3 separate regions of the Homo sapiens genome follow, and all the other regions are linked to region 1. Evidence: fine-mapped expression QTL. A gene starts in region 1. Each other region holds a variant in brackets. All regions are shown on one strand. Distances are from middle to middle. Region 1 holds the start of MOSPD3 (motile sperm domain containing 3). Region 2 holds the start of ZAN (zonadhesin). Region 3 holds the start of TFR2 (transferrin receptor 2).

Region 1 (10,688 bases):
TAATTTAGCAAAGGGGTTTCCTGGGCTATGGCAAGAGCTGTCCCCAGACTCCTGGACACAAACGGCACACCCATTCTCCATGCAGTATCAGGGCCACACCCCACTGGAGCCAGTTCTGGGTGTGAGAGGGAGAAGACTCCCAGGGTAGTGGAGCAGGTCCCAATGCCCCTAAAGTAAAGCTGGAACAACTGATCACCTTCCAGTGCTGTGACAGCCTGGGTCTGTCTTAATATCTTGCTGATCTTTGTTCCCAGTCAACCATCTGCCCAGAGTCACTGGCTCTCCCTCCTTTTTATTTTTTTTGTAGAAATGGGGTCTACGCTATGTTGTCCAGGCTGGTCTTGAAACCCTGGGCTCAGGCAATCCTCCCACCTTGGTCTCTCAAAGCACTGGGATTACAGATGTGAGCCACTGAGCCTGGCCATTCTCCCTCTTCCTCTGTTTCTCCTCACCCTGCACCTGAAGGAGGGCAGGTGAGCTGGAAGCTTGCTTTTGTAAATCTTATTCTTTTCCTGTACCCTAGTTTTTTCTTTTTTTTTTTTTTTCCTGGTTAAGGTGAGGTTATGTCAAGCAATACTATTTCCCCCATATTGGTAGGGACTTTGGTGTTTCTGATCCATGGGAGTTGAAGCCTTGTTTCTTTTTTTTAGATGGAGTCTTGCTCTGCTGCCCAGGCTGGAGTGCAATGGCACAATCTTAGCTCACTGCAGCCTCCACCTCTCAGGTTCAAATGATTCTCTTACCTCAGCCTCCTGAGTAGCTGGGATTACAGGCACCTACCACCATGTCCAGCTAATTTTTGTATTTTTAGAGACAAAATTTCACCATGTTGGGTGTATTTTTTGTATTTTTAGAGACAAGAGTTCACCATGTTGGCCAGGCTGGTCTCGAACTCCTGGCCTCAAGTGATCCACTCGCCTCGGCCCTGCAAAGTGCTGGGATTACAGGCATGAGCCACTGTGCCCAGCCAAGGGAGTTGAAGTCTTAAAGGAAAGACCCAGGAAAACAGATATAGGGTCCAAAAGGCAGAAAAGGATTCTAGGGGTTGTAAACACCCAGGTAACCCTGGTGAAAGGCTTTGTTGCCTCCAGATGGTGGGACAGGAGTTCCACCGCAGGCAGGATTAGGTGGTATTTTCATTCATTTCTTTTTAGGTTAATACATTGGCTTAGGGACAGGATCCTATTCCAGGGCTGAAGGGGATCTTGAGAATCAACTTGCCCAATGCTCTCATTTTGTAGGTAGAATCTACAGCTCAGAGAAATTAAATAATTTGCTCATGGTCACATAGTTTTTCAGCGCAAGCACCAGGAGTGACCTAACTCTTCTAAATCCTCGCTGGGCCTCATCACTGCCCCAAGTGCCTGGGTCCCCTGGGAACAGGGGTGGGAGAACTAGAGGATGTCTGAGTACCAAAAAAGAAGTGGGAAGACAGGGGCAAGTACCCTACATTTCTGATTATCATTTTAAAAATGTATTTTATTCAACTTGGAAAATGAGTACAAATCCCTGGGTGTTTTTTGTCAGGGAGGAGTGGGGAGTAGGCAGGAAAGAGAAGAGGGTAGGAGGCAAGGTAAGGTATGAGCATCACAGTGGCTGCCTCAAGACCCTGCCCAGGGAGGGTGGGGTGGGCTGGGGGTTGAGCACGGAGCTCAGGTCCGGAGGAACACCATGGTGAGGAGGCCTGGAGGGGGGACAAAGAAAGAATAGGGTCGCATGGGCAGCCCTGGGGCTCTGTTAGCTCTCCTCCCGTCCCTTCTCCCTTTTTCCTGGGGCCTGGGTCCCTGGCCACTACTGTCCTCACCCAAGACGTAGGCGGCCACCAACTTTTGTCCCAGGGAGACGTGCAGGACTTGAGGCAGCTGGCTGCCGAGTTCGTCCGGGAGTGGGAGCAGCAGGAAGGCCACAGACACAATCCCCGTCAGCAAGAAGAGGAGGAAGGAGCTGGTGGCCAGTTGCTGGCGGGGGTCTGAGAAACAAGACTCATCAGATGCTGCAGCCCCCACTCCTGCCCAGCCCAGGTCCTCCAGGGAGAAGCCTGAACAAGGAAGATGTATCTACTTTTTTTTTTTAATTATCTTTTATTTTTTGTAGAGATGGAGTCTCACTACGTTGTCCAGGCTGGTCTGGAACTCTTGGCCTCAGGTGATCCTCCTGCCTTAGCTTCCTAAGTAGCTGGGACTATGGGTTCATGCTACCATGCCCGGCTAATTTTTAAGTTGTTTGTAGATGGTCTTGCTATGTTGTCCAAGCTGATCTTGAACTCCTGGCCTCGAGCAATTGCAATCCTCCCACCACTTCAGCCTCCCAAAGCACTGGGATTATAGGTGTGAGTCACCACACCCTGTATCTACTTTTTTTTTTTTTTGAGACGGAGTCTCACTCTGTTGCACCCAGGCTGGAGTGCAGCCACACAATCCTGACTCACTGCAGCCTCTGCCTCCTAGGTTCAAGTGATTCTCCTGCCTTAGCCTCCCGACTAGCTGGGATTACAGGTGCGAGCCACCACTCCCAGCTAATTTTTGTGTGTTTTTAGTAGAGACGGGGTTCCATCATGTTGGTCAGGCTGGTATTGAACTCCTGGCCTCAGGTTATCAGCCCACCTCAGCCTCCCAAAGCACTGGGATTATAGGCGTGAGCCATCACACCCTGTATCTACTTTTTACTGCCCTCCAGGGGTACACTGCAAGTGTCCTCTCCTTCCTACAGCCTCTGTCCCCACCACCACAAGAACTCTCTCCTCCAGTCCCTCAGCATTCATTTTCTCTCTTCTGTGGACCTATCCGACAGGCAGGGACCTCTCTTGATCTCATACCCAGCACACAACTTGGTACAGGGTTAATTGCTCAATACAGGTTTCTTATTGAACTGAACTGAGCTACCACATGATAGGAAGTACTGCGGTTACAGTCAAGGAAGAACTTTTTCCTCTAAGTAGAAGTCAGAAACCAGGGAAGCTGTAAGTCTTTTCCCCCTCACCTGATATAAAATCTCAACTCGGAGGAATGTTTCCACCAAAAGACAAAAGACTGAACCAGGAGACTTCTTCAAATCCAATTTATCTCATCTCTAGGGAAATGCTAGTTCCTCCCTCCCTACAGAACTCAAGATCCCAGTCTCCCAACTCACGCTCCTGGAAGTGTCTGGCCGTGGGTGGTGGTGTCCCAGCAGGAGGCCCTGGGCGAGGCGCTGGATCTGGCTGTCCCTGAAGCTCAAGGGGGTACGCTGGGGCTCTCAGAATGGAGGTAATGTCCTTGCGTCCCACCACTCGGCCCTCAGCTCCTTCCTCAGACAGCTCAATGCGGAAGCGGTCCTGGACATCATAGTGGCTGGGAATGGGTGCCACATGGCGAATCACACTGGTCCCAAGGTAGGAGAGAAGCCCATTGGGGTGAATGAGGCAGTAATCCAAGGAAATCTGGGCCTCCCCCCAGAAGTCTCTCCCTTAGGGGCACAGGCAGAGGATAGGGCAAATAGGTTAAAGGGGGCAAGGTCTCAGACCTCAGACAACAGGTGGCAGCGACCCCTGGCTTCCACAAGCCTCCCCACCCTCCCAGCTCACTCACATGTCAATGCAAGACTGGGGCTTCACATATCCCTCTGCGTCAAACACCGTGTATTTGGCAGGTGCTGTGCACAGGACTGGGGGATAGAGACACACACAGACAAGCCCTGCCATGTGGGTCATTTAAGTCCCCTCTGCCTTCTGCCCCGGAGGCTGGACATGACTTTCCCAGTCCACCAAAGCTGGACGTGCAACCCTACCCATCTGACTCCTCCAGCCAACACAACCCCCCAGTGTCCGGCCACCAGCCCCCACGAGGCGCCGATCCCTTTACCTCGGAAGCGAAGCGCAGTTCCTGTGGGGTTATAGAGGGTCAGCAGCTGTCGGGGTCCGCTCCGCTGGTCCGCCCTGAATACTAGATCCGGGGGAAAGACCAGGACCGGGACAACGGGTCCCAAGGGAGGAGGGGCGCCCCGGGACCCCCGCCCAGGGGGCCCCGGACCCACCAGCTCCTGGTCCTGGGGCGCCCCACGGCGCATGCAGGCTCTGGGCGGTCGGACATCCGAGGGCAGAGCTCAGGGGACAGGGCCTGGAGTCAGAGCTGGGGGGCGTGAGGGGCGAAAGGGGACAAGATGAGCTCCCGGAGCAGGGCCTCGACTGATGCCGCCGCCGCCTTGGAACCCCGCTAGATGGGGCTCCCGCAGACCCAGGCCCAGGGCCCCCAAGACCTTTCCTCTTCCAGCTCTGCCCCAGGTTCCTTCGGACCCGCCGAGCCCCACCTCGACGGCCACGCCCACCCCGCTAAACCCGGCCCCTCGCAGCTCCCAACCCGGCCTTCTCCTCACGCCCAGCTCACGATCTCCATAAGCCCCGCCCCGCCGCTGGCCTCGCCCCTTCCGGGCGTTCCCGGACGCCCGCCTCCTCTCTCCAGCCAGACTCCGCCCGCTGCAGCGGGCGCCTGCAGAGCGACCTGTGACGCCGCCTGCTTCCTGGGAGACCTGTGTTTGCGTCTCCGGCCCCTCCCTAAGCTCGGACACGGGCCCCATCGGGCTTCTGCCTCAAAACGGTCGCTCGCGTTAGGATGCCCACCTTGTGGTTAAAGCACCTGCCAGTCAGCTTGTGGTCAGATTAATGTTGCCATGTTCCAGAGAGTCCTTTTCTATACTTCCGCCGTACGGCCTCTGTCATTGGCTAGGACGTCTTTGTTTCTGCCGTAACTATACGCCGATTGGTGTGCTGAAAGACCAAACAACGCCCTCCTTCTGTCGTCTGCGATTGGCTGGATTCCGGTGACGTAACAGTTGTACTGGCTCGAACTCGAGCCCTGAAGTAACTCAGAGAACCGGGGGCGGGGTTTCGAACTGGGCTTTGTTCTTTCCTCCCTATTCTTGAGATGGTCCAAGTCAATCTCCCACCGGGAAGCCCTTTTCCTCCTCTTCATTCCAGGCTCTAGAAGCCTCTGCAGGAACCAAGCCTGTTTTCTTTGCTTTTTTTTTTTTTTTTTTGAGACGAAGTCTCGCTCTGTCACCCAGGCTGGAGTGCAATGGCACGATCTCGGCTCACTGCAACCACCGCCTCCAGGGTTCAAGCGATTCTCCTGTCTCAGCCTCCCGAGTAGCTGGGATTATAGGCGTGCGCCATCACGCCCGGGTAATTCTTTGTATTTTTAGTAGAGACGGGGTTTCACCATGTTGGTCAGGCTGGTCTCGAACTCCTGACCTCAGGCGATCCACTTGCCTCAGCCTCCCAAAGTCCTGTAATTACAGGCGTGAGCCACCGTGCCCGCCCTCTTTTTTGCTTTTTTAGAGACAGAGTCTCACTCTGTCGCCCAGGCTGGAGTGCAGTGGCGCTATCATTGCTCACTGCAGCCTCCAACTCCTGGGTTCAAGCGATTCTCCTGCCTCAGCCTCCCGAGTAGCTGGGATTACAGGCGTGCATCACCATGCCTGGCTTTTTGTAATTTTTTGTAGAGACGATCTCGCTATGTTCTGCAGGCTGTTCTCGAACTCCTGGGCCCAAGCGATCCTCCCACTTAAGCCTCCCAAAGTGCATGAGAGCCACTGTTCCTTCCCCAGGCTCAAAGTCTGTTTTCTATGGGTTGGAGGTTCCTCCCATCTGGGACTCCAGACTAAGTCTTGCCTCCTGTTTCTCACCTTCCTGTGAGGGACGTGGGAAATCACTCACATTTGCACAGGGAATTAAGATTTGCTGATTTCAAACCCATGTTGTTTGAGTAATTATATATTTTAAAAAAGGATTTGCTAAACCCTGCCACTTTAATTGCATCGAATCTTCAACTCCTTTTACAGCCTGGATAAGGTGAAGAATCTGGGTCTCTGAGGGCACCCAGTTAGCAATGGAGCAAAGACAAAGTTGATCTTATCTGAAAGTCTCCTCTGAACATCTTGTGTAGAATCCCCGTGTTCTCTTTTACATTTTCTTTTTCTTTTTCTTTTTTTTTTTTTTTTTTTTTGAGACAGTCTTGTGCTGTCACACAGGCTGGAGGGCAGTGGTACAATCATAGCTCACTGCAGTCTCCACCTGCTTGGTTGCGCTCAACCAATCCTCCCACCTCAGCCTTCTGAGTAGCTGGGACTACAGGCGCGCGACTTCACACCCGGCTAATTGTATTTGTTTTTTTTGTTTTGTTTGGTTTGGTTTATTTTTTGAGATGGAGTCTCGCTCTTTCACCCAGGCCAGACTGCAGTGGCGCAATCTCGGACTGCAGTGGCGCGATCTCAGCTCACTGCAAGCTCCACCTCCCGGGTTCACACCATTCTCCTGCCTCAGCCTCCCGAGTAGCTGGGACTACAGGCACCCACCACCAAACCCGGCTAATTTTTTGTATTTTTAGTAGAGATGATGTTTCACCATGTTAGCCAGGATGGTCTGGATCTCCTGACCTTGTGATCCGCCCGCCTCAGCCTCCCAAAGTGCTGGGATTACAGGCGTGAGCCACCGCTCCCTGCCCTGTATTTGTTTTTTTAATAGCACTTATAGTGATACATGACCTCCTATTTTATTGTTTCTCTCTCCTCCAGTAGAATGTTTTTTCCTTTTCACAAGAGCAGGGACTTTGTTTAGTTTTCTGTTGTATCTTTAGGACTTATGACAGTGCCTACCATTTGGAATGAACAAATGAATGAGTGACTAGGATGAACTTTGAGCAGAGATCTGACTGGATTTAGGAAGTGAACCATGAGATATGTCTATGGGAGAGAATTCTGGATAGAGGAAATAGCAAAGGCCTAAAACAGAAGTGTACTAGAAATGGGCAACAAGGCCGGGTGCGGTGGTTCACCCCTGTAATTCCAGCACTTTGGGAGGCCGAGGCGGGCAGATCACAAGGTCAGGAATTCGAGACCAGCCTGACCAACATGGTGAAACCCCGTCTCTACTAAAAATACAAAATTAGCCGGGCGTGGTGGCACATGCCTGTAGTCCCACCTACTCGGGAGGCTGAGGCAGGAGAATCGCTTGAATCTGGGAGGCGGAGGTTGCAGGGAGCCGAGATATCGCCACTGCACTGCAGTCCAGCCAGATCATGCCACTGTGCTCCAGCCTGGGTGACAGAGCGAGACTCCATCTCAAAAAAAAAAAAAAAAAAAAAGAAATGGGCAACAAACTGAAGTTGCCAATGTGACTGGAACAGATGATACATAGGAGATAATAGACATGAAGCTACGAGGCAGGAGAGAGAATGCAGATGATATAGGGCCTTGAACCCTTGGTAAGACTTAGGAAACTACAGGAAAGTTTTGAGTAAAGGAGGGACAAGATGTGACATAATCGGCCGGGCATGGTGGCTCACGCCTGCAATCCCAGCACTTTGGGAGGCCAAGGGGTGTGCATCACCTGAGATTGGGAGTTCGAGAGCAGCATGACCAACATGGAGAAACCCCATCTCTACTAAAAATACAAAATTAGCTGGGTGTGGTGGTGCGCACCTGTAATTCCAGCTAATCGGGAGGCTGAGGCAGGAGAATCATTTGAACCCAGGAGGCGGAGTTTGCAGTGAGCCGAGATTGCGCCATTGCACCCCAGCCTGGGCAACAAGAGTGAAACTCCGTCTCAAAAAAAAAAAAAAAAAAAAAAAAAAAAAAAAAAAGATGTGACATATTTTCTTTTCTTTTTTATTTTATGTTATTTTTTTCAGACGGAGTCTCACTCTGTTGCCCAGGCTGAAGTGCAGTGGCACAATCTCAGCTCACTGCAATCTCCACCTCTTGAGTTCAAGCAATTCTTTTGCCTCAGCCTCCTGAGTAACAGGTGCCCGCCACCACGCCCAGCTAATTTTTTTGTATTTTTAGTAGAGACGGGGTTTCACCATGTTGGCCAGGCTGGTCTCAAACTCCTGACCTCAAGTAATCTGCCTGCCTTGGCGTCTCAAAGTGCTGGGATTACAGGCATGAGCCACCGCGCCCCGCCAAGACATGACATCTTTTCTTTTTACTTTTTTAGAGACAGAGTCTTACTCTTTTGCCCAGGCTGGAGTACAGTGGTGTGATCATAGCTCACTGCAGCCTCAGAGTCCTGGGCTCAAGCAAGCCTCCCACATCAGCCTCCTGAGTAGCTGGGACCACAGATGAGTACCACCATGCCCAGCTAATTATTTTTTGTAAAGACAGAATCTGGCCATGTTGCCCAGACTGATCTCAAACTTCTGACCTCAAGTGATCCTCCCACCTTAGCCTCTCAAAGTGCTGGGATTACAGGCATCAGCCACTGCACCTGGCCTGTGACTTACATTCTTTTTTTTTTTTTTGAGACAGGGTCTCACTGTGTTCCCCCAGGTGGAGTACAGTGGCATAGTCACAGCTCACCGCAGTCTTACCTCCCCGGGATCAAGCGATCCTCACACCTCAACCTGAGTAGCTGGGACTACAGGTGTGCACCACCACGCCTGGCTAATTTTTGTATTTTTTTTTGTGGAGAGGGGGTTTTGCCATGTTGCCCAGGCTGGTCTTAAACTCTTGGCCTCAGCAATCCTCCTGACTCAGCCTCCCATAGTGCTGGGATTACAGCTGTGAGCAGCCACCCCTGGCCACATTCTTAAACGATTATTCTGTATAGTAAATATGTGTTGAGTTAATTAATTAATGAAAAGAAATCCTCAAGATGGACCCCAATACCATAAGCATGGAGATCTGACCCATTCCTCATTAAGAAACATTTATTTGGATAAGAAAGAAGGCCTGAGGGCTAGGGGCCGGGGCTGGCCTGCGTCTCAGTCCTGGGACGCAGCAGCCCGCACAGGTTGAGAGGGGCACTTCCTCTTGCTTAGGTTGGTGAGGATCTGGTCCTGGTTGGGCCGGTGGAGAACCACAAAGCTCTCTGGAGGAAGGACGGGGCCTCTGTTCTCTTCTACCTGGCCCATCAGCAGATAACTGACTCCTGGAAGAAGGAGGGAGGGGTTGAGATCTCTTATTCTTGAGACCTGTCAGCAGGTCTCAAGATTCCACACCTTGATCATTTCTGTGTGGCTTAGCTTGACCCATCCCCATTTCCCCACATCTCTGTTACCTTTCTTCATGGGGGGGCACTGCTTGCAAGGCACGTAAAACTTCAGGGAGGCACCAGTGGGTGGAGAAGGCAGGTCCAGTCCTCCAGTTTTATAAGCACCAATAAGACTGACAGTCACGGCAAGGCCCTCCCCTGGCTCCCGAACCATGGACTTCACTGTCGCAGTCACCACTGTGGGAGAATGGGAGTGAGAGATGAGGAGATGGGAGGTTCCAGATGGCAGGACTGGAAACAGAAGCAGGAGGTGGTTCGAGGAGCTGGAATGGGGTTGGGGGTATTCTTACCAAGGCTGCTGGCACAGAAGTTGCTCTGCAAGGTGCCTGTCCGGCGGCACTGCTTTGGGCAGGTGGGTGCATCTAGGAGGGAGGAGGGTGGAGGGTGACCTGCTCAGCAGGTAGGAGGGAGCACTGTCCCCATAACAGCCTCATTGACTTGAACTGTTCAGAGCTCTGTCAGGCTTCCGGTCCTAGCACCCAGTAGGGGTCATCGGCAGGAAGGAGGCACCAGTGAGTACCAGATGAATCAATGAGTGAATGTAGCCAAGGAAGAACTTTTTTGTTTGTTTAAGATGGAGTTTTGCTCTGTTGCCCAGGCTGGAGTGTAGCGGCACAGTCATGGCTCACTGAAGCCTCGACCTTCCCAGCTCAAGCAATCCTCCCACCTCAGCCTCCGGAGTAGCTATGACCACACGCCTGGCTAAGTTTTTTTTTTTTTTTTGAGACAGAATCTCACTCTGTAACCCAAGTTGGAGTGCAGTGGCACAATCTCGGCTCACTACAATCTCCACCTCCCAGGTTCAAGCGACTCTCCTGCCTCAGCCTCCCGAGTAGCTGGGATTACAGGTGTGTACCACCACACCTGGCTAATTTTTGTATTTTTAGTAGAGATGTGGTGTTGCCATGTTAGCCGGGGTGGTCTTGAACTCCTGACCTCAGGTGATCTGCCTGCCTTGGCCTCCCAAAGTGCTGGGATTACAGGCGTGAGCCACCAGCCCAGCCTAATTTTTTATTTTTGAAAAGACAGGGTCTTGCTATGGTAAACTCCTAGGCTTAAGCGATCCTGCTGTCTGGACCTCCCAAAATGCTGGGATTACAGGTGTGAGCCACAGCCCAGGTCAGAACTTTTTGAAATGGCCCCCTTCAGTCTGTTTCCCCTTCCTCCCCTATCCCAGACTCACCAGGGGCTGAAGGAGATTCCTCTGTTTTCTCCGGAGGTTGGGACTTGGGGGGCAGCTTGACTTTAGGCTCAGTTCCCCGTTTGGGGCCGGGCCCTTGCCCTTCTTTGGCAGTGCCCCGCGGCAGGGTCTTGTAGGAGGCTGAGAAGCCATCAGCGGTGACACTGAGATCTGAGACGAACTGGACGAGGAGTTCATTCCCTTCGGAGGAGATGGAGCTGCAGGTGGCCACCGAGCATTGGGGGAAGTGTCAGGGCGGGCGTGCACCACACTCTTCTCAGCCCCATGACCTTTTTTGTTTGTTTGAGACAGGGTCTCACTTTGTCTCCCAGGCTTGAGTGCAGTGGCTCCATCTAGGCTTACTGCAGCCTTGACCTTCTGGGTTCAAGTAATCCTCCTGCCTCAGCCCCGCAAGTTGCTGGGACTACAGGCACGCCACCATGCCCAGCTAATTATTTTGTATTTTTGGTACAGACAAGGTTGCGC
Region 2 (10,688 bases), 120 kb before region 1:
CCACAATCCCTTTTTGCCACACCCCCACCCTCAGGCTCTCCAACACCCAGACTCCCCCCCGAGGTCCCACAATTTGTCCCCGGCCTTACCCGGGTGGGCAGGGTGAACCCTGCGGGCACAGTGACGGTGGTGAGCATCCAGGAGGGTCTCTGGGTGTTCCAGTGTTTCCAGAGCACATCGGGGCGGCGGCCCTCTTCACCCGAGAGCAGCAGCAGCCTGAGCTGGGCGCCCCAAGACAGCCCGAACATGTGGTGGGCAAAGTGCACACAGAGGGGGCCTTGCTCCCATAGGTCGGGGCTGAGCAGGCGGGCCACTCCCCCACGGTGGAAGCTGTTCGATTCCATATGCAGATAGCTGCCCTCTGGGGGAGGCAGAGCCCAAGACACTGAGGCCCAGCCACCTCTGAGGGCTGCCCCCACCCATCCCCTTCTCAGAGCCCAGGCATCCAGGTCTGGCTGCCTCCCTTCTCTCTCCATCTAGCCACTCCCGCCTCCCAGCCACCTCCCTGCTCATGGTCCCCTGGAAACCATAGCCCCTCACCTCCGTTAGGGTACCCCCCGGGGGCCCCGGTGGAGCCGGTGGGAGAGGGCCCACTGGCTCGAACCCAGTCTTCATCGTCTGCGGACACTTGGGACCAGTCACAGAGGGGTTTGGCGTCATCCTCAAAATCACACTGGGTGAGGACATCTAGGAAGAATGGGTCACAGTGAGGTTTCAGAGAGGGCAGGGGCAGGGCCCAGAGCCACACAGGGAGAGGGAAGTAGCAAGATTGCTACACTTAGAGAAAGCTGCCATGAAATCAGCCGGGTGTGGTGGCGCACACCTGTAGTCCCAGCTACTGGGGAGGCTGAGGCAAGAGAATCGCTTGAACCCAGGAGGCGGACTTTGCAGTGAGCCAAGATCGCGCCACTGCACTCCAGCCTGAGGGACAGAGGGAGACTCCGTCTCAAAGAAAAGAAAAAGAAAGCTGTTGCAAAGCCTTGGGGTCCAGAGCAGAAATTGCTCGTCTGTTTTTTGTGGAGATGGAGTCTTACTATGTTGCCCAGGCTGCTCTCAAACTCCTGGCCTCAAGCCATCCTCCCACCTTGGCCTCCCTAAGTGTTGGGATGACAGGTGTGAGCCACAGCACCCGGCCCAGAGCAGAGATTTGAAAGAGAGAATCTTTTAGGAGAAATTCGGGGCTGGGAGAGTGGACAGAATGACAAGGTCCGGGGTCATGAACTGAGGTTGGAGGGCTGGACTTGGCCTGGCAGGACACATTTTGTAGTCCTGGCTGATGCCCGGAGGGGACTGGAGGTGGCTGCTCCTGCTAGGAACTCAGGAACTGGCATTCTGGTGGCAGAATGTGGGTTCGGAGGAGGGAGGAGAAATCTTAGCACTCCTGGTTTCCAACTCACAGTTGTCCCTAGAGCTGCGAACAACCAGCTTCTGGTCCGGAGGCTTCTCTTTCCTTGGGGGTCGTTTGAAGAAAGCAAAAATGCAACTCGTGTCATTATCAAGAATTATAAGATTCAGTGACTGTGAGCTTTCTGAGTGGTCACGTAAGGATGATCAGTGTTTATGCAGTGAATGTGTCTGACTTGACTTTTTTTCTTTTTTTCTTTTCTTTTTTTTTTTTTCCGGCACCCAGGCTAGAGTGCAGTGATACAATCACAGCTCACTGCAGCCTCAAACCTCTGGGCTCCAGCAATCCTCCCACCTCAACCTCCCCAGTAGCTGGGACTACAGGAGCATGCCACCACGCCCAGCTAATTTATTTTTATTTTTTATAGAGATGGGGTCTTTCTATGTTGCACAGGCTGGTCATGACCTCCTGGCCTTATGCAATCCTCCCACTTTGGCCTCCCAAAGTGCTGGGATTACCGGTGGGAGCCACTGTGCTCAGCCCTCTGTTTTTTGTTGTTGTTGAAGTTCTACTTGTTCAAATTCTCCCAAACACACTGCAGGACACCAAGACATCCATCATTTCTTTTTTTTTTTCTTTTGAGATGGAGTTTTGCTCTTGTTGCCCAGGCTGGAGTGCAATGGTGCAATTTCCGCTCACTGCAGTCTCCGCCTCCCGGGTTCAAGTGACTCTCCTGCCTCAGCCTCCCAAGTAGCTGGGATTACAGGCATGCACCACCATGCCTGGCTAATTTTATATTTTTAGTAGAGACAGGGTTTCACCATGTTGGTCAGGCTGGTCTCAACACCTGACCTCAGGTGATCCGCCCGCCTCGGCCTCCCAAAGTGCTGGGATTACAGGGGTGAGCCGCCGCGCTTGGCCTGTCATCCGTCATTTCTTTGCTGCCTCGTACTTAAGTCTCTCTCATCAGCTGGGTCCACCCTGGGTCTTGTCCGTTTCCTGAGGGCCTGACCCCTCAATCCTTCTCTCCTAGGCTTAGATCTGTCTTCCAGCTCTGCACCTCCTCCGTCCCTTCTCACATTGTAGCCCTGTCCCGCTCCCAGAACCCGCCCCTTAATTCCTGTTCAGCAGTCAAGGTCAACCCATTTCCATCCCACCGGGTTTCCCCCTTCCTCTCAAGGTCTTTTTTTTTGTTTTTTTTTTTTTGAGACGGAGTCTCGCTCTGTCATCCAGGCTGGAGTGCAATGGCATGATCTCAGCTCACTGCAAACTCCGCCTCCCAGGTTCAAGCGATTCTCCTGCCTCAGCCTCCTGGGTAGCTGGGACTACAGGTGCACACCACCACGCCTGGCTAATTTTTTGTATTTTTAGTAGAGACGAGGTTTCACCATGTTGGCCAGGATGGTCTCGATCTCCTGACCTCGTGATCTGCCCACCTCAGCCTCCCAAAGTGCTGGGATTACAGGCGTGAGCCACCGTGCCTGGCCTCTCTCCAGATCTTTTGTAGTTAGCCTGCTCGCCCCCTCCAGCTCTGTCCTTCCATATTCCTTACAGCCACCCTCAGCTGACCCTGGTTTATCATTACCCCCTGGGCCCAGCTTACCTGAAAAGGGCAGCCCCCACCAGAAGCAGCAGAGTCCAGACTGGAGGAACCATGAGGACCCTAAGTGGTTGCTCCCAGGGGAGAGGGGAAGGGCACAGTTGGGAGCCTGGACTCCTTTTATTCCCCCCTGGCCTCCTTAGCTTGGCATCCTTCCAAGGATGCCATGAAGAATGAACAGAGAAACACAGAAAAGCTCTGGGAAATTAAAATTATGAGAGTTGAAAGTTACCATCCAGTAGAAGCATCGTAGATTGAAATCGAGGGAAATAAACTAGAGAGAAGAGAAAAAAAAAGAGAAAGAAACAAAAAGGAAACAGGTTTGGAGGATCAATCCAGGAAGTCTAACCTCAAACGAAAGGAGTTCAAAAAGAGAGAACAAAGGAAAAGAAATTATTATTTTAAAAAGAAAAACGCACAAGAAAATATCCAGAACTGAAATATACAAGTCTCTAGATTAAAAAGGTGTCCAGGGTGATGAAAGCATAGAGACCCATGGAAGCACTGGACTTCAGACTATCAGGGGTGAAGAGAAGATCTGAAACACTTTCAGATAGAAAATAACAAGTCATATACCAAGGATCAGAAATCAACATGGCATCCAGCTTTTCAATAGCAACCATGGAGTCTAAGAGCCAGTGGAACATTGTCTGCAGAATTCCAACAGAAAACCATTTCAAACCTAAAATTCTATAACTGGCAACAGTGGCAACTGGAGAGTTAGGTGAAGGAAGGACTGCAAACGGCTGGACGTGGTGGCTCACACCTGTAATCCCAGCATTTGGGAGGCCAAGGCGGGTGGATCACTTGAGGTCAGGAGTTCGAGACCAGCCTGGCCAACATGGCAAAACCCCATCTCTACTAAAAATACAAAAAATTAGCTAGGGGTGGTGGCACATGCTCATAATCCCAGCTACTCAGGAGGCTGAGGCGCAAGAATCACTTGAACTTGGTAGGCGGAGGTTGTAGTGAGCCGAGATCGCGAGACTCCAAGTCAAAAAAAAAAGAAAAAAAGGACTGCAAATGCCTACTGGCAAATCACGGAGAAAGATAAGTCACAGAGGAAGAGATACAAACAGGCAGCAAACATTTGAAAAGCTGTTCTGCTTCACTAGTAATAAGGGAAATGCTAATCAAAACTATGACTCTTATATTGACCAAAAAAAAATTTTTTTTTCTTTTTTTTGAGACAGGGCCTCGTTCTGTCACCCAGGCTGGAGCGCAGCAGCATGACTTGGCTCATTACAGCCTCAAACCCCCGGGGTCAGGTGATCTTCCCATCTTAGCCTCTGGAGTAGCTGGGACTACCAGTGCATGCCACCAAGCCCAGCTAATTTTTGTATATTTTGCAGAAATGGGGTTTTGCCATGTCTCCCGGGCTGGTCTTAAACTCCTGGGCTCAAGCAGTCTGCCTGCCTTGGCCTTCCAAAGTGCTGGAATTACAGGCATGAGCCACTGTGCCCAGCCGACAAAAATTTGAAAGATTGGTAGTACGGAGTATTGGACAGGATGCAGGTAGATACGAACTCAGTGATGATAAGACTGTAGGTTGGTGGCCAGGTGCAGTGGCTCATGCTGGTAATCCCAAGTGCTTTTTGGAGGCCGAGATGGTAGGACCGCTTGAGGCTAGAGACCAGCCTGGGCAAAACAGTGAGACCCTGTCTCTACAAAAAATTTAAAAATTAACCAAGCATGGCAGTATGTGCCTGTAGGTCCCAGCTGGTTGTGAGGTTGAGGCGGGAGGACTTACGCGTTCAAGGCTGCAGTGAGCTATGATCAAGCCACTGTACTCCAGCCAGAGCAACAGAGCGAGACCCTGTCTCAAAACAAAACAAAAAAAGAATGTTGGTGAAAACTTTTTTTTTTTTTTTGAGACAGCGTCTCACTCTGTTGCCCAGGCTGGAGTGCAGTGGTGCCGTCACAGCTTACTGCAGTCTCAACCTCCCAGGCTCAAGCAGTTCTCCCACCTCAGCCTCCCGGGGTGTCTGGGATTACAGGCACAAGCCACCATGCCTAGCTAATTTCTGTTTGTTTTTTTTGCTTGCTTGTATTGTAGAGATAGGGTCTCACTATGTTGCCCAGGCTGGTCTCAAACTCCTGGGCTCCAGTGATCCGCTTGCCTCAGCCTCCCAAAGTGCTGAGATTACAAACATGAGCCACTGTGCCCAGCCGGTGAAAACTTCTTAGAAGGCATTTGTTTTTTGGTTTGTTTGTTTGTTTTGGGGGAGGAGTCAACCCAGCCTAGAGAGCAATGGCACAATCTCAGCTCACTGCAAACCTCCACCTCCCGAGTTCAAGCAATTCTCTTGCCTCAGCCTCCCAAGTAGCTGGGATTAACAGGCATGTGCCATCACACCCGGCTAATTTTGTATTTTTAGTGGAGATGGGGTTCCATCATGTTGGTCAGGCTGGTCTCGAACTTCTGACCTCAGGTGA[T/C]CCACCCACCTTGGCCTCCCATAGTGTTGGGATTACAGGTGTGAGCCACAGTGCCTGGCCAGAAAACTTCTTAGAAGGCATTTGACAATGACTGTTGAACTTTCAAATGTGCATATCTTTGACCTAACATTTCTAGGAAACTTGCTACAGAAATACATGCACTTTGCACAAATTTGCGGATACCCAAAGATATTAATTGCAACATTGTTTACAATAGGAAAAGTTATGATAAATATTTATCAGTAGGTATGTAATTGGATCATATTAAGAAATGGCCGGAGGCCGGGCACGGTGGCTCATGCCTGTAATCCCAGCACTTTGGGAAGCCGAGGTTGACAGATCACTTGAGGTCAGGAGTTCAAGACTAGCCTAACTAACATGGTGAAACTCCATCTCTACTAAATACAAAAAATTAGTTGGGCATGGTGGTGCATGCCTGTACTCCCAGCTACTCGGGAGGCTGAGGCAGGAGAATTGCTTGAACCTGGGAGGCAGAGGTTGCAGTGAGCCAAGATCGCGCCATTGCACTCCAGCCTGGGCAACAAGAGCAAAAATCTGTCTCAAAAAGAAAAGAAAAGAAAAGAAAAGAAAAGAAAAGAAAAGAAAAGAAAAGAAATGGCCGGGCGCGGTGGCTTGTGCCTGTAATCCCAGAACTTTGGGAGGCCAAGGTAGGAGGATTGCTTGAGCCCAGGAGTTCGAGACCAGCTTGGGCAACATAGCGAGAACCCACCCTCTACACAAAAAATACAAAAATTATCTAAGCATGGTGGTGCACACCTGTAGTTCCAGTTACAAAGAAGGCTGAGGCGGGAGGGTCGCCTGAGCCCAGGAGTTCAAGGCTGCAGTGAGCTATGATTGTACCATTGCACTCCAGCCTGGGCAACACAAGGAGACTCTGTTTCTAAAAAGAAATAAATAAAAGAAAAAGAAAGCCCTTTTGCAATCCCCAGGACCGCTTCTGCCCAAATGAGGCTGAAGAGCCTCGCCATGGAATGCCAACAGAGCTCAGGCAGGGATCACATCTGAGGACTGAGAGCACCCCCCTGCCTGTTTATGTCAGACCTGGGGATATCAATGGTGTCCATCCCAAGCCCTTGTCCACCCTTCCTCCATACCAGGTTAGCAGAGGAATTAACAGAGGGGCCAGGGCCAGGAAATGGTTAACCCAGGGAAGAGGAGCAGAAGACATTGATCATAGCCACTCCCTGTTGGGCAATAAGTCCCCTGGTAGCTGCTTTAGCTGACCTCCCTTTGGGACCACAGAGCTGGGGGTCACAGCTCCCAATCCGTCTGGAAGTGGGGGTGGGGGGCTCACGGCAGGACAGGAAAGTGGGGGAGGACCCTTGGGCCCTGTATTTTAGGGAGCCAGGAACCAGCAACGCCCCAGAGACTGGCAACCTTGACAAGACTGGCAGCTGTGGGAACAGGTGTGAGAGACCTTGGGCTGTGGAAAAGCCCTTGAGAGAACTGGAGCCCAGTCCTAAATTTGCTGTGTGTCTTTGGGAACTTTTCTCACCCTCTCTGTGTCTTAGTTCCTTCCTCTGTAAGATTGGGGAGGAGGCTCAATCAGTACAGCCAAGATTTTTTTAAAGCCAGAAATCTATGATGTTGGCTGGGTGCAGTGGCTCACACCTATAATCCCAACACTTTGGGAGGCCAAGGTGGGCAGATCACCTGAGGCCAGGAGTTCAAGATCAGCCTGGCCAACATGGTGAAACCCCGTATGTACTAAAAATACAAAATTAGCTGGGCATGGTGGTGCGCACCTGTAGTCCCAGCTACTCAGGAGGCTGAGGCAGGAGAATCTCTTGAACCCAGGAGGGGTAGGTTGCAGTGAGCCGAGATCGCACCACTGCACTCCAGCCTGGGTGACAGAGTGAGACTCTGTCTCAAAAAATAATAATAATAATAATAATAAAAGAAAGAAATTTATGTGTGGCAGTCACTTTTTTTTTTGAGACAGTGTCTTGCTCTATCACCCAGGTTAGAGTTCAGTGGCTCAATCATAGCTCACTACAACCTCAGCCTCCCAAGTAGTTGGAACTACAGTCTATTTTTTAGTAGCCCAGCAAATTTTTTATAGAAACAGGGATCTCACTATGTTGACTAGGCTGGTCTCAAACTACCAGCCTCAAGTGATCCTCTCACCTTGGCCTCCCACAGTGCTGGTATTACAAGTGTACATCACCGCGCCCGGTCACGTAATTTTTTTTTTATCTTGTTTTGCCCTTGTTGCCCAGGCTGGAGTGCAATGGTACGATCTTGGCTCACTGCAACCTCCGCCTCCCAGGTTCAAGCAATTCTCCTGCCTCAACCTTCCAACTAGCTGGGATTACAGGCATGCACCACCACACCCAGCTAATTTTTTATTTTTAGTAGAGACGGGATTTCACCATGTTGGTCAGGCTGGTCTCGAACTCCTGACCTCAGGTGATCCGCCCACCTTGGCCCCCCAAAGTGTTGGGATTACAGGCGTGAACCACTGGCCATTTTTAATAATCAATTTTCTTAAATAAAGAAGGGAGTTTAGAGACATTTGGCCATGACTCCCATAAATTGAGAAACTATACTATCGTCTATTTATTTGTTGCCAACAATCCTTCACAATGCCACAGTTTTATGATGGAATTTTAGTAGAATTAACTTTCACCATCTTCAAATAATATTATTAGCCTTCAGCTTAGATTCCAGTGTCTAAAAGACCCTGTTTAGCTAATGCAACTCCAGCAACAAACCCTACTGTGGTAAGATCACCTACTGAACTACAGTTCAGTAGTTCCAGCAGAACCCTAGGTGACTGGCCAGGCACAGTGGCTCACGCCTGTAATCCCAGCACTTTGGGAGGTTGAGGCAGGTGGATCACCTGAGGTCGGGGTTCGAGACCAGCCTGACCAACACGGAGAAACCCTGTCTGTACTAAAAATACAAAATTAACCAGGTGTGGTGGCACATGCCTGTAATCCCAGCTACTCAGGAGGCTGAGGCAGGAGAATCATTTGAACCCGGGAGGCAAAGTTTGCAGTGAGCTGAGATCGCGCCATTGCACTCCAGCCTGGGCAACAAGAGCGAAACCCCATCTCAAAGAAAAAAAAAAAGAATCCTAGGTGACCTGTGAACTAGGGACAGGTCTTTGTTCAGCCTGATGCTTGGGCCCAGAGGGAGGATTTGAGTCAGTGAGTACCCAAGAGCGAGAGGCTGCAGTTAAGATGGAGAGCTGGGGCTGCAGGAGGTGGCTGAGTTGGCTCCTAGCGCAGTACTCAGAGCAGGGAGTTGGGAAGAAGGGAAGTTGGTAGGTACTTTCTGCCTATGCAGGGAAGAAGCAGGATCCCAAGGCAGGGGATTGAATGGGAAGGAGTCGGTCGTGGAAGATGGACACGCCTTGCTGACCACAGCTGTCTCATTCACTCCATCTCTTCTCTTTCCTCTCCCTGGTGATCCTGGGTCAGAGAGAAAAGGGACTCTCTCTCTCTCTCTTTTTTTTTTCTTTTTGAGACGGAGTCTCGCTCTTGTTGCTCAAGATGGAGTGCAGTGACTCGATCTCTCAGCTCACTGCAACCTCTGCCTCCCAGGTTCAAGCAATCCTCGTGCCTCTGCCTCCCAAGTAGCTGGGATTACAGGCATGCACCACCACACCTGGCTAATGTTTGTAATTTTAGTAGAGATGGGGTTTCACCATGTTGGCCAGGCTGGTCTCAAATTCCTGACCTCAAGTGATCCACCCACCTTGGCCTCCCAAAGTGCAGGGATTACAGACTTGAGCTACCACACCCGGACTTTTTTTTTTTCTCTCTTTTGAGCCAGGGTCTTGCTCTGTCACCCTGGCTGGAGTGCAGCGCTGCAATCATAGCTCAATGCAGTCTCAAATCCCTGGGTTCAAGTGATCCCTCCTGCTTCTGCTGGGCCTACAGGTGCACACCATCATGCCCCACTGCTTTAAAATTTTTTTTAGAGACAGGGTCTCCCTATGTTTCTGGGGCCAGTCTGGAACTCTTGTGCTCAAGCCCTCCTCCTGCCTCAGTCTCCCAAAGTGCTGGGATTACTAGTATGAGCCACTTCGTCCAGCCCCATCTCCGTGTTTTATGACCTGGGCAAGGCCCATAATCTCTTTGGGCCTCAGTTTCCTCCTCTGCAAAATGGGGACCCTCCATCATCCCTGCCTTCCTCTTGGCGTTAGGAGAGCAAATGAAAAGCATGCCAGGAAATCACATGCTTTTCATGTAAATAGCCAAGCTCTCTACAAACAGAAGGCATCATCTTTAAACAATTATGTAACCCCTTGACTCAGAACTAGGCTTTGCTGGCTCCTGTCCCCACCAGAAAGTCAAAAGTGTTGGCTCTGTCACTTTCCAGCAGAACTTAGTTCCCCATCTGACAAATGGGGATGATACTCATTGTATTCCTGCTTCGTGGAGTTCGGGTGAGAATCGCAGCATGCAGATGCCACAGATTGAATGTGTTGTTAATTATAACCATGATCACAGTTCAGAGGAAAGTTCCTTTCCTGGCCTGCACTCGAAGAACCTCTGAAATCTGGCAACACCCTCCTTGGGAATCTGCCTCTCAGCACAGACTCTGGGCCTCGCTTAGTTCTTCTAAATCCTGTGGTTCTTCCCTTCCCCGGCCTCTTGGCATTGCACAGCTTAGCACTCAGTCCCATACCAAAATGACTACGTCTGAATTAATGTGCGTCAAGGCCAGGTGCAGTGGCTCATGCATGTAATCCCAGCATTTTGGGAGACTGATGAGTGGATCACCTGAGATCAGGAGTTCGAGACCAGGCTGGCCAACATGGAGAAACCCCATCTCTACCAAAAAACAAAACAAAAACAAACAAACAAAAAAACACAAACACACACACACAAACTAGCCGGGTGTGGTGGCATGTGCCTGTAATCCCAGCTACTCGGGAGGCTGAGGCACAAGAATTGCTTGAACCCAGGAGGTGGAGGTTGCAGTGAGCTGAGATTGTGCCACTGCCCTCCAGCCTGGGTGACACAACAAGACCCTGTCTCAAAAAATAAATAAATAAAATAAAATGAATTAATGTGTGCCTTTTTTTGCCCCCAGGAGGCTGCCCACTGGCCACTGGGCTATGAGTGTCATTTCATGTCTCCTAGCACTTAGTGCAAAGGCTTGGTTCACAGTAGCCATTCTATAAACTTGGAATAAATGTTTTAAATGTTTCTAACGTACTTGCCTCTCACATCCATCCCAGGAGTGGTCAGACAGTTCAGGTTTGATAACTACTCTTTTTGTGGGGGAGGGGATGGGATCTTGCTCTGTCACCCAGGCTAGAATGCAGTGGTG
Region 3 (10,688 bases), 34 kb before region 1:
ATCATTATTCTTCAGAATCTTGAAGGCACTTTTCCATTGTCCTTCTTCCAGCATATATCGTTGCCATTTAGAAGGATGAAACCATCTGATTTCTGATCCTCTGATGTAATGTTTTTCTTTCTGAAAGTTTATAGAATTTTTACTTTATCCTCAGTGTGGTGTATTTTCATTCATGGCTCTAGGCACTTAGTATGTCTCTTCATTCTGAAAACATATGTCTTTCAATTCAGTGAAAAAGAATTATTTATTTAATTATTTATTTCTCTCCATTTTCTCTCTTGGGATTTTCTGTTATTGGATTTTGTTGCCCCCTGAATTGGTCCCCTAATTTAATTCCCTTTTCTCTTATATTTTCCATCTCTTTACCTTTTTCCTTTGGTTTCCAAGATATTCCCTCCACTTTATGTTCCAATCCTTCTATTGAGTTTTTCATTTCTGTTCATGTAGTTTTAATTCCCACAAGCTCCTTACTTTAAATTTTTTTTTTAATGAGACAGCATCTCACTATGTTGTCCAGGCTAGTTTCGAACTCCTGGGTTCAAGCAATCCTCCTGCCTCGGCCTCCCAAAGTGCTGGGATTATAGGCGTAAGCCACCCTGTCTGGCCTGTGCAAATGTTTTAAATGCATGTGTGTGTGACTGTGAGTGTGAATATATGTGTATGTGTGTGTGTGAGTTTGTGTGTGAATGTGAGTATATATGTGTTTGACCGTGTGTTTGTGAGTGTGTTTGCATGTGTGACCGTGAGTGTATGTATAGTGTGAATGCATGTGTGTGTTTATGTGTGTCTGTGAATGTGAGTGTATGTGTGTGTGTTTGAGTGTATGTGTGTGTGTGTGCAAGTGAATGCATGTGTGTATGACCGTGAGTGTATGTGTGAGTGTTTAGGTTGTGTATGTGTGTGCAAGTGTTTGGATGTGTGTGTGTGACCGTGAGTGTATGTGTGAGTGAGTGGGTTGCGTGTGCGTGGATGTGGGTCTGTGCCTCTCCCTTCCTGAATCCTCCCCCTCTGCACTTTCTCCACAGTGGAACACACGGGCCAAGCGGGAGAAGCTGACAGAGCTGATGTTCGAGCAGTACAACATTCCTGCCTTCTTCTTATGCAAGACGGCTGTGCTCACCGCGTATCCTCTGGACTGAGCTGCTCTGACTGGGTGGAGGGCTGGGGTGGGGCCTGTGCTGAGCTCAGCTGTGATGAGCTGGAGGGTCAGGCCTGGTTCTCTGAAGATCAGTGTCCCAATGGGCAGACACCTCCCTCTGCCCCACTAGTGCAGAAGGCCCAGTGGACTGAGCACCTCCGACTCTGGGGTGGCCAGATCAGCGGCCCCTTTCGGTTCCCCGGATCAGGCTGAGCAGACAGTGAGCTGGGCCCGGGAGAGAGTAGGGGCTGGAACTGGACAGAGGAGGGAGACGTGTAGAACACTGCGGCAGTCCCTTCCCAAGAACTCCTTCAACACTGACTGTTTTTAGGATCTGCCTTGCATTGAACCCTGTGCTATGCACTGGGGTGATAGCGACCCTAATTTCAGGGAATCTGTAGGACACAACCAAAAATAAAGGGGCTGGCCAGGCGCGGTGGCTCACGCCTGTAATCCCAGCATTTTGGGAGGCCAAGGCGGGCAGATCACTTGAGGTCAGGAGTTAGAGACCAGTCCGGCCAACATGGCAAAAGCCCGTGTCTACTAAAAATGGAAAAATTAGCCAGGCATAGTGGTGGGCACCTGTAGTCCCAGCTACTTGGGAGGCTGAGGCAGGAGAATCTCTTGAACCCAGGAGGCAGAGGTTGCAGTGAGCTATTGCATTCCAGCCTGGGCGACAAAACGAAACTCAGTTTCAAAAAAAAAAAAATAACTAAAGAAGTAACTGGGGTCGCCGGGTGTGGTGGCTCATGCCTGTAATCCCGGCACTTTGGGAGGCCGAGGCGGGCAGATCACGAGGTCAGGAGATCGAGACCATCCTGGCTAACACGGTGAAATCCCATCTCTACTAAAAATACGAAAAATTGGCCGGGCGTGGTGGCAGGCACCTGTAGTCCCAGCTACTCGGGAGGCTGAGGCAGGAGAATGGCATGAACCCGGGAGGCGGAGCTTGCAGTGAGCTGAGATTGCGCCACTGCACTCCAGCCTGGGAGACAGCAAGACTCCATCTCAAAAAAAAAAAAAAAGAAGTAACTGGGGTCTCAGAGCCTTTCTCCAGGAGATGAGTCATCACCAGGGGGAGAGATTTGCAGACTGGGGATGGGCTGGACCCCGGTAGAGCAGAGAGTGACCAGACAAGATCTGGGCCCAGGCCCCTCACTTGCTGCTGCTGTCTCTTTGACTTACCCATCCGATGCCAGCTTTGCAAACGGGCGGTCCACTGGCCTCGTGCTGGACAGTGGAGCCACCCACACCACGGCCATTCCAGTACATGACGGCTACGTTCTGCAGCAAGGTGGGGCTTCGGCAGGGGGTGGGGGTGCTCCAGGAGGACCAGGTCCTGACAGTGCCTTCCTTCTAGGCATCGTCAAGTCCCCTCTGGCAGGGGACTTCATCTCCATGCAGTGCCGGGAGCTGTTCCAGGAGATGGCCATTGACATCATCCCACCTTACATGATCGCAGCCAAGGTGGGGCCTCTGGGGACATGGAGCTGCCACTAGAGTCCTGGCCACTCGCCCCATGGCCGTCAACCCTCTGACACATGAGATATCAGAGCAGAGAGCAGCAGGCTCCCCAGTGGGTCCTGGCTCCAGTTCCTCCTTTTATAATCGAGGCATCCGAAATCCAGACAGGCTGAGGGATATGCTGAGGTCATGAAACCAGCTGGCAGACAGCAGGATGTGTGAGGGCCAGTGTGGTGGGTTCTAGGGTCCAATATAGACCCAGGTTCAAGTTCTGCCTCTGCCGTGCAAGAGCTGCAGGACCGGTCAGGCATGGTGGCTCACACCTGTAATCCCAGCACTTCGGGAGGCTGAGGCAGGCAGATCGCTTTGAGCTCACTTCGAGACCAGCCTGGGCAACATGGTGAAGCCACGTCTCTACTAAAACTGCAAGAACTAGCCAAGCATGGTGGTGCATGCCTGTAGTCCCAGCTACTTGGGAGGCTGAGACTGGAGAATCACCTGAACCCCGGAGGCAGAGGTTGCAGTGAGCCGAGATCGCGCCACTGCACTCCAGCCTGGGCGACCGAGTGAGACTCCATCTGAAAAAAAAAAAAAAAAAGAGCTGTGTGACCAACAGCATGATATCAAAGCTCCCTGGGCCTCAGGTTTGTCTTATGTAAAGTGGAACGGCAGTAGGCAGTAGCCAGGGTGCTGTGAGTATGAAGTGACACTGTGTGCTTAGCTCCATTCCGTGCCCTCACATGGATCATGACCCCCTAGGAGGCCATTCCCTTGAGGTTCTGTCACTGCTGTATTCCTGGTGTTCTCCAGATCAGCTGCACCCACCGCATGAAAGGCACACATGGAGAGAGAGGCATGCCCCATTCTCTCTCCTCTCCATCAGGGAAGGGTGAGAAACCCCTCTTGCAGGCAGCACAGCAGAGCCTGCAGCGCCAGGTAGCTGCAGAGCTGGGAACAGTGCCAGGAAGGTGGGGGTGGGGGTCAGGTGGGCTAGGAAAGGGTGTTCCTACACTGTGCCCCCACAGGAGCCTGTCCGGGAGGGTGCCCCCCCAAACTGGAAGAAGAAGGAGAAGCTACCCCAGGTCTCCAAGTCCTGGCATAACTACATGTGTAATGTGAGCCTCTGGAGAGGGCCACCTGAAACCCCCCTCCCCTGCCATGAATCGGGGGCGGGACAGAGGCCCCGCATGGGAGGGGGAGCAGGGAGGGGGAGCGGGGCAGGGGGTGCTGCTCACGGGGAAGGCAGGCCCTCACCACCTCCGCTGGGATTTCAGGAGGTGATCCAGGACTTCCAGGCCTCCGTGCTGCAGGTCTCAGACTCCCCCTACGATGAACAGTGAGTGTGGCTCAGGGCTTTGGGGTGGGAGAGAGGGCAGAACCGGCACTCTTGGGGTGGGCTGGGGGGCTCTGGTGCTGCCCACGCACTGATCCTTCTTGAGCACCCCAGGCAGAGTCCTGCTCCCTTCTGGGTAGGGTGGCTGCACAAATGCCCACAGTGCACTACGAGATGCCCAATGGCTACAATACAGACTACGGCGCCGAGCGACTCCGCATCCCTGAGGGCCTGTTTGATCCCTCGAACGTCAAGGTTTGGCTGTGTGGCGAGGACTGGGGTGGGTGCTGGCTGCAGTCCCTGGATCCTGGGGCGTGGGGGAGGCTGGGAAGGATTGCAGGGGTCTGGGGGGAAGGGGGAGAGAGCCCACAGCCCCAGTCACCTCTCTCTGCAGGGCCTGTCGGGGAACACCATGTTGGGTGTGGGCCACGTGGTGACCACCAGCATCGGCATGTGTGACATTGATATTCGCCCGGTGAGGCCAGGCCGGAGCTGAGGCTCGGCAAAGGGGCCCAGGGGAAGTGGGGAGACGGGGTTGGGGGGCTGCCCCCGCAGCTCACTCCTTCTCCCTGCTCTCAGGGCCTGTACGGGAGTGTCATTGTCACCGGCGGGAACACACTGCTGCAGGGCTTCACTGACAGGCTCAATCGAGAGCTTTCCCAGAAGACCCCACCGGTAGGAGCCCACCCCTGACCCAGAGCCCTGGACACCCGTCCTGGCTCAGCTGTCCAGGACTGAGTCCCTTCATCCTTCCCATGTCCTTCCTTCTGTTCTGGCCACCAGAGCAGAACCCCTGCCCCTGTGGCTTCCCAAGTCTTCCCCTCTCCCCCAAGCCCTGTCCCTTCCCAGAACCTAGGTGTCTGCTTCCCCCAGCCCCTTTTTACCCCCAGAGCATGCGACTGAAACTCATTGCCAGCAACAGCACCATGGAGCGCAAGTTCAGCCCCTGGATCGGGGGTTCCATCCTGGCCTCACTGGTGAGAGGAAAGGGACCTGGCCTAGCACTGACTGTGGGGGAGAGGGGAGACCCAGACAGTGCCCGCCACTTTGACTGCCTCTTCGTTCATTCATTCATTCAACAAACATTTAGTTTTGAGAAATGTCAGTCAATGAATGTTCCCAGAAGGGTGAACAGGACACAAATCGGGGGGCAGGGGCCCGGTATGGTGGCCCACACCTGTCATCCCAGCACTTTGGGTGGCTGAAGTGGGGGGATGGCTTGAGGCTAGGAGTTGAAAACCCAGCAGGGGAACATAGCAAGACCCATCTCTACTTTTACAAACTGGGGAGAAGAGGCTGCGCACAGTGGCTCATGCCGGTAATCCCTGCAGTTTGGGAGGCCGAGA[C/G]GGGTGGATCACTTGAGCTCAGGAGTTCGAGACCAGCCTGGCCAACATGACGAAACCTTGTCTCTACTAAAAATCCAAAAATTAGCCAGGCATGGTGGTGCATGCCTGTAATCCCAGCTATTCAGGAGGCTGAGGCAGGAGAATCTCTTGAACCCAGGAGACGGAGACTGCAGTGAGCTGAGATCGTGCCACTGCACTCCAGCCTGGGTGACGCAGTAAGACTCTCAAAAAAAAAAAAAAATTGGGAGTAGAGGGACAGGTAGTTGGAGAGATTGGTCAGGATGAGATTTTGGTGATACACCCACTGTGCTCAGTCAGCAGAGGGGAGACCCTGATGTTTTGGGGCAAGGGAGTGATGTGGCAATGCAGGCATGATTGGAAAGACTGCCAGGCATGAGTCTTTGGGGTCGGGGTATGAGCTGGGGTCAAGGGGACCTTACAAGGAGGCTGTTTTGATTGTCCCGGAGTCATAGCATGGGTAGCAGTGGGGATGGGGTGGACAGCAAGGGGCAACTAGTAAAGGAGGCAGGCAGGTTGGTTCTGGGGCAGGAGGTGGTAAGTTCAGTCTGGACCTGCTGCTGGGTTCGAAGGAAGGTACTGAGCAGGGAGCTGGAGTTGCAACCCGCATCTGGAGGGTATCAGTCACACAGAGGGGACAGTGGGGCCATGACAGACAAGGAGGACATCCACGAGAAAGGAAGTCCCCCAGGGAGACAGAAACCAGGGTCAGAAAGACAGAGGCTGGCAGTCTGAACTTAGCTCAGGGCTGAAGCATGTCAGCCACACAGTTCTTGTTTTTTTCCTTTTTTTGTTTTTGTTTTTGTTTTCGAGACAGTCTCACTGTCGCCCAGGCTGGAGTGCAGTGGAGCAATCTTGGCTCACTGCAACCTCCATCTCCTGGGTTCAAGCGATTCTTCTGCCTCAGCCTCCCGAGTAGCTGGGATTACATGCGTGAGCCACCACGCCTGGCTAATTTTTGGATTGTTAATAGAGATGGGGTTTCACCGTGTTGGCTAAGCTTGTCTCAAACTCCTGACCTCAAGTGATCTGCCCATCTTGGCCTCCCAAAGTGCTGGGATTACAGGTGTGAGCCACCATGCCCGGCCTGAAATTAAGTATTAATAATATATCCTGGACAAGTGGAGTGGCTCACACCTGTAATCCCAGCACTTTGAGAGGCCAAGGCGGGAGGATCATTTGAGCCCAAAATTTCTAGACCAGCCTGGGCAACAAAGCGAGACCTCATCTCTACAAAAAATTTAAAAAGCAACTGGCAATGTGGCGCATACCTGTAGTCCCACCTACTTGGGAGGCCAAGGTTGGAGGATCACTGGAACCTGGAAGGTTGAGGCTGCAGTGAGCTGTGCCACTGCATTCCAACCTGGGTGACAGAGCAAGATCCTGTCTCAAAAAAAACCCAAAAAAATTGGGTGTGTATTTTCCACTTAGAGCACGTCTCAATTTGGACCAGGGCTGGTGAGCTACAGGAAGCTAGTGGCCACTGCATTGGACAGCACATGTGTGTAGGCTGAGAAAGATCAAAGAAGCCCAGCCGTGGTAGCTCACGCCTGTAATCCCAACATTATGGGAGGCTGAGGTGGAACGATTACTTGAGCCCAGGAGTTTGAGACCAGGCTGGGCAACATAGTGAGACACCATCTCTACAAAAAATAAAAATTAGGCTGGGCGCGGTGGCTCACGCTTGTAATCCCAGCACTTTGGGAGGCCGAGGCGGGCGGATCATCTGAGGTCAGGAGTTTGAGACCAGCTTGGCCAACATGGCGAAACCCTGTCTCTACTAAAAATACAAAAATTAGCCGGGCGTGTTGGCACGCGCCTGTAATCCCAGCTACCCAGCAGGCTGAAGCAGGAGAATCGCTGGAACCTGGGAGGCGGAGGCTGCAGTGAGCCAAGATCGCACCACTGCATTCCAGCCTGGGCGACAGAGCAAGACTCCATCTCAAAAAAATAAAATAAAAATAAAAATAATTAAAATTAAAATTTTAAAAAAATAGAGAGAAGGGACACTCTGAGATGCTCATTGCAGGAACCCTCAAGGGGCAAGTTGTAATGCCGAAGGCTGCAGATGGGGTGCCACAGTGTTGGAATGGTGAGGTGGAGGGAATATCTTCCTTGGGAAAGAGGGAGACTGGCGGTGTTCCAAAGCCCTGATGGAGTGAGAAGAGGACACCTGGTGGGGAAGGACTGTGTGTGTGTAGGGGGTGTTGAGTGCCAGGTGCAGGTTGCCTGGCCTGGGGCTGTGCGTGCCATCCCCCCAGCTCAGGAACAGGGCCTAGCTCAGGGCAGAGACTGCTGTTCAATAATACTTGTTGAATGAATGAATTATTGATTGAATGATATGAAGAGGATACTCTCCCTCTGAATATGAAAGGGGACAGACCGAGGAGGGGAGGATGAGGTGGGGAGGGGCTTCAGAGGGATGTGAACCCAAGGGGTGGTTGGGGCCTGTTGGAGGATTCCCAGGGGCTGCACCTGCCTGTCCACACCTCCCTCCAAGGCCACCCTGACCCTGATATTACCCCCTCCACCCAGGGCACTTTCCAGCAGATGTGGATCTCCAAGCAGGAATATGAGGAGGGCGGGAAGCAGTGCGTGGAGCGAAAGTGCCCCTGATGGCACTCCTCCCCACACACCTGCTCCCAAGCTCAGATGGAAGTCCCTTAACCCCCATGCCACATTGCCCCCCTCCTCCTTTCCCTCTTGTCCTCATTAATGGTGATGTTTCTGGGTTGAAAGAAGTAAAAATGTTTTAAGAAAAAAAAGTTTGGCCTCCGTGGGGTGGGGAGTGGGCACAGGGGTCTGGAGGGAGGTGAGGGGAGGGAGTCTCACTTCTACACCCATGCCGATCCCACAGTGGGTGCTGGGACACAGCCCCAGGGGCCATGGATTCCTCAGGTTTCCTAGGGGTTGTGACCCAGGGAGGGCCACATGACGAGGACCGGGGGTTGGGGGAGTTGCTGGGGGCTAACAGTTGTGGTGGGAGGTGGGAGGGGCTGCAGGGTGCAGTGGAGGGGCACGGCCTGGGGTGAGTGTGGCAGGAGGTGGGTGGAGCAGGAGGTGAAGCCTGGATGGGCGGAACAGGAGGTGGGGCCTGGTGGGCGGGGCCTCAGCGTAGGCCTTAGGTCTCAGGGGAGCAGCACGCCTGAGCACCCCAGGACCTGCGCTCAGGTGAGATGCGCTATGCCTTCCTTCCTGGGGCTCTTGGTGGTGACAGACATGGGGCGGGGACTAGGGCGCTGGTGCATCCCAGCAGCTCGGAACTTCTCTGGACCTGAGTAGGAGCTGATGTTTCCCAGGGGAAACCCGAAAGGGAAACTTGGTGGGACCCTGAGCCCTCCTCTTCAGAGCTACTTGTCTTGGGGCCCTCGGAAGGGTTTGGGGACCTGCGCCCCCTGCCTGTTTAGCAGTTTATGCCTGTGACATGTTTCTGGGGTGAGGCTAACTGGCCTTTCATCAGCCTCAGAACCCAAAGAGGTAGAAACCCATGTGATCCAAGTCCTTCGGTGACCAAACGGGCCGGTGCCCAGGGAGGACCATGACTTGTCCAGGGTCACCCAGCTCTGCCCACACCTTGGCGGGGACTCTGATCACTCCTCCCCACTGACCCACATATCCCTGACCCCAGGACCCCTATCTGGGAGCTCTCGCTGGTCTCATCTGACCATGTGCTCCCACCTGTGCCCCTCCTTCTCCAGCAGCCAGCAGGAGTCTGAGAACGACCTTTCAAAAGAGACACACATGCACACCACCAGACCAGACCCCCAAGTCACACCACTGTGGTGCCTCCAGCTTAGAATGCCACTGGGGCAAGTGTCAGGACAGGGAGGACAGCTGATATGTCACAGGACCGGGGCACTGGGGGACTCTGAAGGCCAGATGAGGAAGGGGCAGATGTCTTAGGGGTGAATCTTCCACCTGGGCATGGCGGGGCTTAGGAAGGGGTCCCCAGGATCCAGGGAGGGGTAAAAGCAGGAGAGGGGAGGGGGCACCCATGTCTCTGCCCTCCCCCACTATCGGCCCCCTTCCCCCACCCCTGATGGGAACTAGGAGGCCAAAGTCCGCCCCAAGGTCAAAAAATTGATTGTTTTGCAGGGAGGAGGCAGGCGTGGGGCTGTGGAGAGATTGGCAGGGGAGAGCACAGCCCCTTGTGCTCTGGCCTGGACCCGGGGGCCACGTCTGGAAGGCTGGACTGAGGCCAGGACTGTGCCCCCACCCTTGGGGGTGGTGAGGAGCAGCCTTGGTTCAGGCTGCCTGCCAGGACTGATAAGGGGCCCTCCTAGGGCTCCCACAAACGGTTTATCGGTTTATCGCTGGGGGACAGCCTGCAGGCTTCAGGAGGGGACACAAGCATGGAGCGGCTTTGGGGTCTATTCCAGAGAGCGGTAAGACTAGTGGGATTGGGAAGACCCCTTAGGCCTTCTCTCTAAGTCCCTCAGCCCCCTCCCAAGCCCCTGAGGCTGGCCCCTCCTGGACCGTGTCCTGACCTCGCTTCTTCCCACCCCTGCCCCTCCCCCACGCCCCCACCACCATGCTCATTTGACACCCCCAAGTCACTGACCTCATTATTGCCAGATGCCTCCCCACCCCCCAGGCCTCTTGCCCCAATCTCATGCCCACCTCGCCTGCACAGCAACAACTGTCCCCAAGATCCTCTCAGACCGTCTACCAGCGTGTGGAAGGCCCCCGGAAAGGGCACCTGGAGGAGGAAGAGGAAGACGGGGAGGAGGGGGCGGAGACATTGGCCCACTTCTGCCCCATGGAGCTGAGGGGCCCTGAGCCCCTGGGCTCTAGACCCAGGCAGCCAAACCTCATTCCCTGGGCGGCAGCAGGACGGAGGGCTGCCCCCTACCTGGTCCTGACGGCCCTGCTGATCTTCACTGGGGGTGAGAGCCGTCCCCCTCCCCAGAAGTGAAGGGCTTGGGCTGGGGGAGATTTCTGGGGTCCAGAGGTGGGCATAAAGAGAATCCCCATCTTGCCACCCGCCAGCCTTCCTACTGGGCTACGTCGCCTTCCGAGGGTCCTGCCAGGCGTGCGGAGACTCTGTGTTGGTGGTCAGTGAGGATGTCAACTATGAGCCTGACCTGGATTTCCACCAGGGCAGACTCTACTGGAGCGACCTCCAGGCCATGTTCCTGCAGTTCCTGGGGGAGGGGCGCCTGGAGGACACCATCAGGTAGGGATGGCCCTGCCCCATCCTGTTCTCGAGTGTCCCTCCCCTCATCCGCTCAGACTGGGCCTCCCTGCCTCCTGGCCCAGGCCTCTGGTGTCTGGGTCCCCCTCCTGAGTCCTCCCATCTGCCTTCCTGGCCCCCCTGTTCAGCGGTCCTGGGAAGGATGGCAGGCATTCGGAGCTGAGGTTCCAGGGGACTGAGGCTCTGAGGGTGGCA

Evidence for each region. PIP is the estimated chance that this variant, and not a neighbour inherited with it, causes the effect.
Region 2: its variant is fine-mapped to the expression of MOSPD3 in whole blood (GTEx, PIP above 0.99).
Region 3: its variant is fine-mapped to the expression of MOSPD3 in whole blood (TOPMed, PIP above 0.99).

Annotation. Positions count from the first base shown.
Region 1 is chr7:100,606,148-100,616,835 of GRCh38, reverse strand. MOSPD3 (motile sperm domain containing 3) reads right to left here and starts at 4,296. Exons shown (of 5, transcript NM_023948.5): 1 at 3,840-4,296; 2 at 3,567-3,642; 3 at 3,130-3,359; 4 at 1,805-1,969; 5 at 1,459-1,684. The coding sequence starts at 4,044. The coding sequence ends at 1,653. PCOLCE (procollagen C-endopeptidase enhancer) reads right to left here. Exons shown (of 9, transcript NM_002593.4): 6 at 10,206-10,420; 7 at 9,313-9,384; 8 at 9,029-9,199; 9 at 8,661-8,899. The coding sequence ends at 8,733. RefSeq lists a silencer at 4,254-4,313 and an enhancer at 4,434-4,703.
Region 2 is chr7:100,726,482-100,737,169 of GRCh38, reverse strand. It overlaps ZAN (zonadhesin), which reads right to left and starts at 3,575. Exons shown (of 48, transcript NM_003386.3): 1 at 3,522-3,575; 2 at 2,949-3,143; 3 at 1,398-1,450; 4 at 541-687; 5 at 90-361. The coding sequence starts at 3,001. The variant T/C (reference allele first, on the strand shown) is at 5,382.
Region 3 is chr7:100,640,473-100,651,160 of GRCh38, reverse strand. It overlaps TFR2 (transferrin receptor 2), which reads left to right and starts at 9,609. Exons shown (of 18, transcript NM_003227.4): 1 at 9,609-9,684; 2 at 9,933-10,185; 3 at 10,289-10,475. The coding sequence starts at 9,652. It overlaps ACTL6B (actin like 6B), which reads left to right. Exons shown (of 14, transcript NM_016188.5): 5 at 1,026-1,123; 6 at 2,338-2,432; 7 at 2,499-2,605; 8 at 3,628-3,717; 9 at 3,877-3,938; 10 at 4,076-4,190; 11 at 4,330-4,410; 12 at 4,515-4,610; 13 at 4,826-4,912; 14 at 7,835-8,064. The coding sequence ends at 7,915. RefSeq lists enhancers at 747-1,291, 1,292-1,838. The variant C/G (reference allele first, on the strand shown) is at 5,282.